2 linked regions of the Homo sapiens genome follow. The protein of the gene in region 1 interacts with the protein of each later gene in a pairwise test. Each region holds a gene or a part of one and is shown on either strand. Other genes may lie near its edges. The genes, in order: RAB28 and ACSF3.

Evidence for each region.
Region 2: the proteins of RAB28 (region 1) and ACSF3 interact in binary tests that used the Homo sapiens proteins (3 or more experiments, as listed by UniProt).

Annotation. Positions count from the first base shown.
Region 1 is NC_000004.12:13,477,560-13,481,478, reverse strand, and holds part of RAB28 (ras-related protein Rab-28), read left to right. Parts: intron 1-1,952; coding exon 1,953-2,049; intron 2,050-3,919.
Region 2 is NC_000016.10:89,091,876-89,095,794, reverse strand, and holds the start of ACSF3 (malonate--CoA ligase ACSF3, mitochondrial isoform 1 precursor), read right to left. Parts: upstream 1,944-3,919; 5' UTR 1,799-1,943; intron 1-1,798. UniProt on the Homo sapiens protein: Catalyzes the initial reaction in intramitochondrial fatty acid synthesis, by activating malonate and methylmalonate, but not acetate, into their respective CoA thioester. May have some preference toward very-long-chain substrates.

The sequences.
Region 1 (3,919 bases):
TGTTCACTTAATACCTGTAATTAAGAAGGGTATTTATACAGTGACTTGAGAAATTATTGAATGTGAAAGATAGCATGCAGTCTAGATAAGTGAAGAGAAAGTGACCCCCACTGATTCAGTTGATTCTCTGTTCAATTTTTATCTCAAGACATCGGGAGATGATATAGTAAGAACTTACTTTAATACTCTGTATGTTCCCAGTAACCTGTATTTTTGACAGTTTACACTCGATTCCAGTTGAAAATCCTAGCTTTATGTTTGCCTCAAAAGTGTGAAAGCAGGGCTTTCAAAATCTAGAAGTCACTTTTTCAGGAAAAGAAACTTTCTTAGAATTTTTCTGAATATTCCTTAACATGAAAATATTGAACTCTGAGATTCTTTAAAGTGAAAAATTATCTCAAATGACATTACGTGAATGTTACACATGCCTTCAGTTTCTCTTTGACCTTTAAGTATTTCAACCATCAGTCTATTAAATATTTTGAAATATCTGTAATAGTATAAGTAGTGATAGTTATTTTTTTCTAGAATTCTGAACCTCTTCAAAGATGATTTTGTGGTCTAAGTTAGATAAGATCAGTAGAATAATATAGTGTAGATGAGAAACAATGGTCTGTAAAAAGAAATACCTATCTTTTCAATTCTGATCTCTCAGTTTTGATAGTGTTACATGTGTCAAAAATATAACAAATGTGTTTGTTTCTAGATGTCTAGCAGAATACCCTTTATATGGTAGTGCTCAACAAATACTTGGCCAATTATCTTCGAAATTTATTACAAATGCTGGGTATTTAAACCCAAAAATATTTGGAGTTATGGTGTCCAAATTGCCATTTGTGTGAAAAATATGGTTCTGTGTAAAAGGAATTTTAGATGATCTTGCTAAAAGGAATTGAAGTTTGGCCAAATTTTCTTTTGCACTATTGTACTGCTTATGTCATAAGGAACTGTAATAAGCTATCTTGGAAATTTATCTTAGTTTTCATTATTTTAAGAGTTGACATGTAATTTTAACTTTTAAAATAAAAAACGGCTATTTTCTCTTAAAGTAGGGAGTCTGTCTTGAAGAGCATAAAAGCTTAGTGAAGTTGCCTTTCTCTTTTTTGGAGGAAGTTTATAAATAAAAATAGTGCATTTAAAATGTTTAAGAATTTGTTAAGTTATTGTTATTCAGTTGTTACTAGAATAATTATTCTTTTGCTTTGATAAGAAATGGTACTTTAAAAAGAAAACTCCAGAGTTTTTGACTAAAACTTTCAGTTTCTATTAAAAAACAAATGTATATCTGTTCTGGTTATGATAGCTTGTGACTTCTTGGCATTATGGTTCTTGGATGGAAAATATTCATTTTGTCTGCTTTATATTAATCTTAAAAATACGTTTATTTAAGAGGTACATATTGTCACAGTCTTTCTTTAGGGTCATTTTCATTTAGCATCTTTAAAAATAAAGAAAAATTACATACGGTGCTTTTCTTGTGGGAAAAAGAAAAATTCTGTAAGCAGATTTCTCCCTCCTTAATGAATGCTTCTTATTATTAGCTTAGTGCTCAGCTACCCTCAGAATATTTAACCTCAGAAGCTGATCTAAGTTAGATTAGATCTTTAATTATGTTTTAAAATAATTCAGATCTTTATTTATTTATTTTTTAGTTTTTTTTTCTGTTGATAACTCTCAAATTCTAATTTTCAGCAAGGAAAAGGATCTTGACAAGCAGGGGATTTAAAGAGATCTAACTCATTAGTTCGTTGTCCCTACCGATAGCTGCTGGCAAGTAAAATTTACCTGGTGGTGTTAAGTCTCTCCCCTCCTTGTAACTGATTAGAACTGCTTAAATTTGCTTGTTGGATTAATTGCAATATACATGTTAAGATTGCTTAAGATTTATAGTGGTCTTATGATTACATTTCTTTAATGAATTAATTTTGACATTCTGTGCATCAATTTTTTAGACCTCCTTAACTACGTGTTTTGCTCAAGAAACTTTTGGGAAACAGTACAAACAAACTATAGGACTGGATTTCTTTTTGAGAAGGATAACATTGCCAGGTAAGAGACTAAAAAGTCTTAACGTAGAAGATTATAAAAAAATCTTAACAATAAGTGGCATAAGAAAGAAATGTGTAAAATTTTGGGGCTGCTTCTACATGAAGATGTATATAAACAGTAAATTTATCTTAGGGATGTTAACTTTCATCACAATCTATCATGAAAGCATATTGTCCATGGGTATAAGAAAAAGTTTATATACTCTCCCACTCCTTCCCTGTTTTTGGCTACTATACATTTTTTGAGGATAAACAATGGTTGCTTATAAAATTGTGAAAAGCTTTTAAAAAATTAAGTGCTGTACATTTGTCAACAGATATTGTATTAACAAAATGTGAAAAGATTGGGAAGGATTATTTTTTAAAATATTATTTTGATTTGCCTCTGTTTTAGTTTTTTGTTTAAAGTTGGAACAGAAGTATAATGTAGCTATGGAACTTCTGTGCTCTAATATGTGAATGCTGTTTTATGCAAGGCAGCATGAAATTGCTGGCATTTAATAGACCACTAAAATTTAGGGTCCCTAGGCACTCATAAAAATACAGTTTGAGCATTCAAGATGTTTCACTTCACCATGCAAAGAAACTATTTAGATGCCAGTTGCAGCACATTTTGTGGGAAATACGGGGAAATAATAACAAAGAAAGAGTGGTTTATGTTTTAAGTTAGTTTCTGAACAATTGGGGCTTTAAAATGCTGTCCTTTCAATTTCAATGGTTAAATTATATGTTTAAAGTATTTTATTAAAAGCAGTTTATCTTGATTGACTTTATAAACCATCCATCTCTCTCCTCTGTGAGGAAGCACATTTGGAGAAAATGGTTGCAAGTGTAATGTCAGATTCATGTACTGAAATGTGAGTGATACAGTGGGAAGGGGTTTAATACATTCCAATTATTATTGAAATATGTTAACCTCTCAGACACCCCATCTATCAGACAACTCCCCATGAAAGTTTTAGAGTAGGTAATGAAAACTCTTGGTAATGGAGGTATTCTTCTTATCTCCTTAGTAATATACTCTGCTATATTTTGTGATAGTTTGTATTTGGCTACCAGTGAAAAATAGATTAGGAGATATCCCATGAGAAAAAAAAGAATTCCAATTTTTCCATTACTGGGTTATTGTTCAGCAAGAGGTTTAAGGAGAAACATATGCGTACTTTGTTTCATTTGTATTTTCTTTTATTGTATCCAAAACTGAAAATGTCATTTTAATTTTATTATTCTCACTCTTACGGATAATCTATGCTGCATTCAGAATACTTAACAGCAGTCACTAGCTGAATACATACACAGATCACATAATACAGATGCTGGAAGCTTATTTTTGCAGGAGTTTTTTTCACAGATGCCAGTTGTACACAGAGAATCTCAAATGTGGCATTTCATTATTAGCTATTTTGTTTTGATGCTTAATTTGAAAAGCCACCAACTTCTTGTCTCATTACTTTATTATTTCTCATTTTTTAGTTGAAAAGCTTAAATAAACAAGTACCTACTCAAATATTAAAAACAAAGACTGGTTTTCAGACATTTTATACAGGTGATATGATGATTTCTGACCTGTGGCCCAGCACTACCAATTTAAAAATTTTGATTACTTTGTAAAAAATATTTGATATTCTTGAAATCGAGATTTATAGTATAATATTTTAGACTTAGTAATTAGGTTAAAAAATGACATTAGGGCATGTATACTAATGAATGTATATTTTAATTTTCCTAATTAAGTTTTTATTTTGATGGCAAAGTTCCAGAAAAAAACTTCTATTTTTTTTTTAAGGCAGTTGGTTTTATGCTACTTAACAGACTCAAACTTATGGTAGAAATTTCAATAAGAAAAAATATTTTAATGTATTTTGTTTTTA
Region 2 (3,919 bases), on another chromosome or scaffold:
ATGTACGAATGGCCCGGCACAGGCCAGGCAGAAGACAAACGGCCGCGCCGTGCTCAGCAGGGTGCTCCCCATGGAGCCTCGCAACAAAAATTACTAGATGAGAATGACACTCGCATTCAAATGAAGGGCTGCTTTCAACATGAATAAAACGACACCTGACCTGTTCACCACCACACCTGACACCCCCGCCCCCCCAGACCTTGTGTTTGAAGTGGATGCCGGCACTTCCTCCTGTCGGCTGCCCCGATGAGAGCGTGGGGCAGAGGAGGGCTGTGCTCGGCCTGCGGGGCAGGATGCGTTTCAGCATCACACCTGTGGTTTGGAGGGTTATTTTCAAAATTACATTTTTAAGTAACAGACATTCACATTGCATTCATGAGCAGTACATTCAAATAAAAAAAACCAAAAAGGAAAAATACACTTGAAACCCATATCCATTTTAGGAAGAAAAATACTATTTTAAAAATGCCATCTGGAAAGGTGACACTTACAACTATCCCAAGCCCACAGTTTAATCCGCCATTTCTGTCTGCCTTGAGGAGATGGTTCAGAGCCAAAGGAGCAAGAGCAAGGGAAGCCTCATCTTATGTCCTCCAACACCTGCGGAGAGGACACCAGCCTGAGCCAGGCTTCACGCTACAAAGCTCGCAGGGTCCCCAGGGTCCACCGGTAGTAACACCCGTGCTCCTGGGTCCACCATGTGAACCCCCTCCTCAACAAGGTCTCAGCCTTGGGCCCTAACACGAATGTCTGTCCTCCCAGGATGGGAAAGCAACAACTATGCCCCAGACACAATTCGTGTTCCTATCTCTAAACGTGTTCCCTTTCTAGCAAATTCCTAATCATTCTTCCAAGCCCAGTTCAAATATCACCTCTTCTTTTTCAGTTTTATTATTTATTGAGACAGTGTCTTGCTCTGCCACCTAGGCTGGAGTGCAATGGTGCTGTCATGGCTCACTGCAGCCTCCGATTCCTGGGCTCAAGAAATCCTCGTGCCTCAGCCTAACCAGTAGCTGGAAGTGCAGGTGTACGCCACCACACCCAGCTAATTTTTACATTTTTTTGTAGAGATAGGGGTCTCACCATGTTGCCCAGGCTGGCTTTGAACTCCTGGCCACAAGTGATCCTCCTGCCTCTGCTGCCCAAAGCGCTGGGATTACAGGCATGAGCCACTGCACCTGGCCTGCCTGGTGGAATTTAGACTCAGGACAGCAACATCAACTCCTGACTGCACCGGGCCTCACCCCTTTAAACCTTCCCTCTCTCCAGGGAATGGGCTGCCTGCAGTACCTTCCAAATACTTCACGGCCGGCCGCACGTCTCCATTGCTTGCTCATAGATCTACATGCCCTCAGGGGCTAGGCCGGCTGTGAACCTGTGCCCCACGCGCCCAGCAAGGTGCACGCAGCAAACAACTAAAACGGGGAGTACTTCAAGGGTGACTTCTGAAGCCCAATGAGAAATGGAAGTGAATTTATTCCAAACACAACCAAAGACGATTCGTTCTGAGGATGCCTGAACACGGACCCCGCCGGCTCGACGGTATCACCGGGCCCGGCGTCCGCACAGCTTCTCTCCCCGCACCCCGCGCGGGGGCCCCGCTCCCCACCGGACACGAGAGGCTCGGCGTCCCGGGAAGGCCGACGCCCGGCCCCAGGCGGCTCGCGGGGAAGCGACCGCGCCACGGGCCACGGCTCAAGCCCAGCTGCGACCCAGGGGCGGGCGCCGGAGCCCGCGCCCCCGAGAGCTCTGCGCCCGGCCGACCCCGCCGCGGTCCCGTGGGCCCCGCCGCCCGCACCTACGAGACGGCCGCGGCCACGGGGCAGGATCTGCCTCGCCACAACTCTTCCTCGTCCTCCGCCGCGCGCGCGCCGGGGTCGGGCCGGGTTCCGGCCGGGTCCCGCGGGGTCGTGAGTCGGGCCGGACCAGTTCCGGCGCCCAACAGCTTCCCCGGCGCGGCGCGTCCGTCGCCCAAGCGCGTCCCCCCGGCGCGGCGCCGTGGCGGCGGGTTCCGGGCGCGCGTGTTCCCCTGTCCCGCCCGTCCCGTCGTGGCGGGGTCGGGGCCGCGGGCGTCTCGTGAGCCGTGGCCGAGGCAAGGCGCCGTGGTCTCCGCTAGCCCAGGGCTGCCCAGATCAGAACGGCGCGCGGGACCACTCCCAACGCGGATTGCTGGGCCTCGCCCCGTCCTCCCAAAAGGGGCTCTCTGGGCTTTGCGGCTGGGGGTCTGCACGCTGAGCTCCTGGGTGATTTTATTATTATTATTATTGTTGTTACTTTTTCTTATTATTATTATTATTTTGAGATGGAGTCTCGCTCTGTCGCCCAGACTAGAGTGCAGTGGTGTGATCTCGGCTCACCGCAACCTCCGCCTCCCGGGTTCAAGTGATTCTCCTGCCTCAACCTCCCAATTAGCTGGGACTACAGGCGCCCGCCATCATGCCTGTCTAATTTTTGTATTTCTTGGGTGATTTTAAACGGACCGCATTTGAGAATCTCTCCTCGAAGGGACTTGGGAACCAGGATACGAATATGAAGCGAGACTGTTGGATGGACAGTGGCGGAAAACATTTAAAGCCAAACACAAAGTCCAGTTGGCTGAAATTTGAGGGTTTTTCCCCTAAAATGAATACTAATAACACAAAGACATGTACTGGCAAACAGTAGTACAAATTATCTGCAGAACCGTCCTGGTGTGATGGCTCACGCCTGTAATCCCAGCACTTTGGGAGGCCGAGGTAGGCAGATCACGAGGTCAGGAGTTCAAGACCAGCCTGACCAACATGGTGAAACCCTGTCTCTCCTAAAAATACAAAAATTAGCCGGGAGTGGTGGCAGGTGCCTGTAATCCCAGTTACTCGGGAGGCTGAGGCAGGAGAATCTCTTGAGCCTGGGAGGTGGCGACTGCAGTGAGCTGAGATTGCGCCACTGCACTCCAGCCTGGGCAGCAGAGTGAGACTGTCTCAAAAAAAAAAAAAAATTATCTGCAGAACCTTGCACAGTTTTTTTGTAAGTGTATTATTTTCCATGCCCATCTTCCTCTCTTGTGATGATTGCTGGGGCAGCAGTTGTGTCCTTGGAAAGCTCAGGAAAGGGCACTTCAGGAGCCCGAGGATGGTTTTCCTGGGAGGAAGGAGCTGGATCTGGGGGAAGTTTGTAACACAGAGCGTGGGAGAACAAACCCAAACTTCTAGTGCCTCTGGTTGCCACCCTGCTAGGTATCATGCAGAAAAAGCAAGTCCAACCCTCTGCCACTGGGACAGGCTTGATCTGGTGTCAGAATTCTGTCTGCTTCCAGGACTCAGCAGGCTGAATGGTGTTTCCGACGAGGGCAGTAGGAAGAGTAAGGAGGGCGTCTAACATCAGGATTCAGCCCCAGGACGTGTGTGCGCAAATTTCTATCCCTGGGAAGTTGAAGAGCTCAGGCTGCGTCACCCACCTAGAGACAGGACTTGGGACAGGGTGACAGCTCCCGTGGTCCTTGGCCATGGCTCTGTGAGGGTGGCAGTGGGGGGAGGGTGCAGTCTCCGAGAAATGGCCCAGTCATCCTATGAGCAGGGGTCCCATCTGTGCCTCGGCTCTGGTCAGCATCATAGTGGCAGGTGGGAAGCAGGAGCAGTCAGGGATTAGCAGACATTGGAGGACAGCCTCTAGCCAGAGAGACGTGGGCTGAAACAACCAGCAGAACAACTGCAGGCAGCCAGGCTGTGCAGAGTGAAGAGACCCCCAAAACCACCCCCTGTTAATACCCTCAGGGAGACAAGGGAAGCGACAGCCCCCATGAGTCCAGAGCGAGATGCCCCGAGAAAGAGCGTTCCAGTAACATAAAGGGGGGCTGGAGGGGTCAGAATACAACAGCCTGAGTAAAAACCCTAAGGGAAGGGCTAAAGGACGTCTCCTAGAAATAGAACAGAAAGACCGA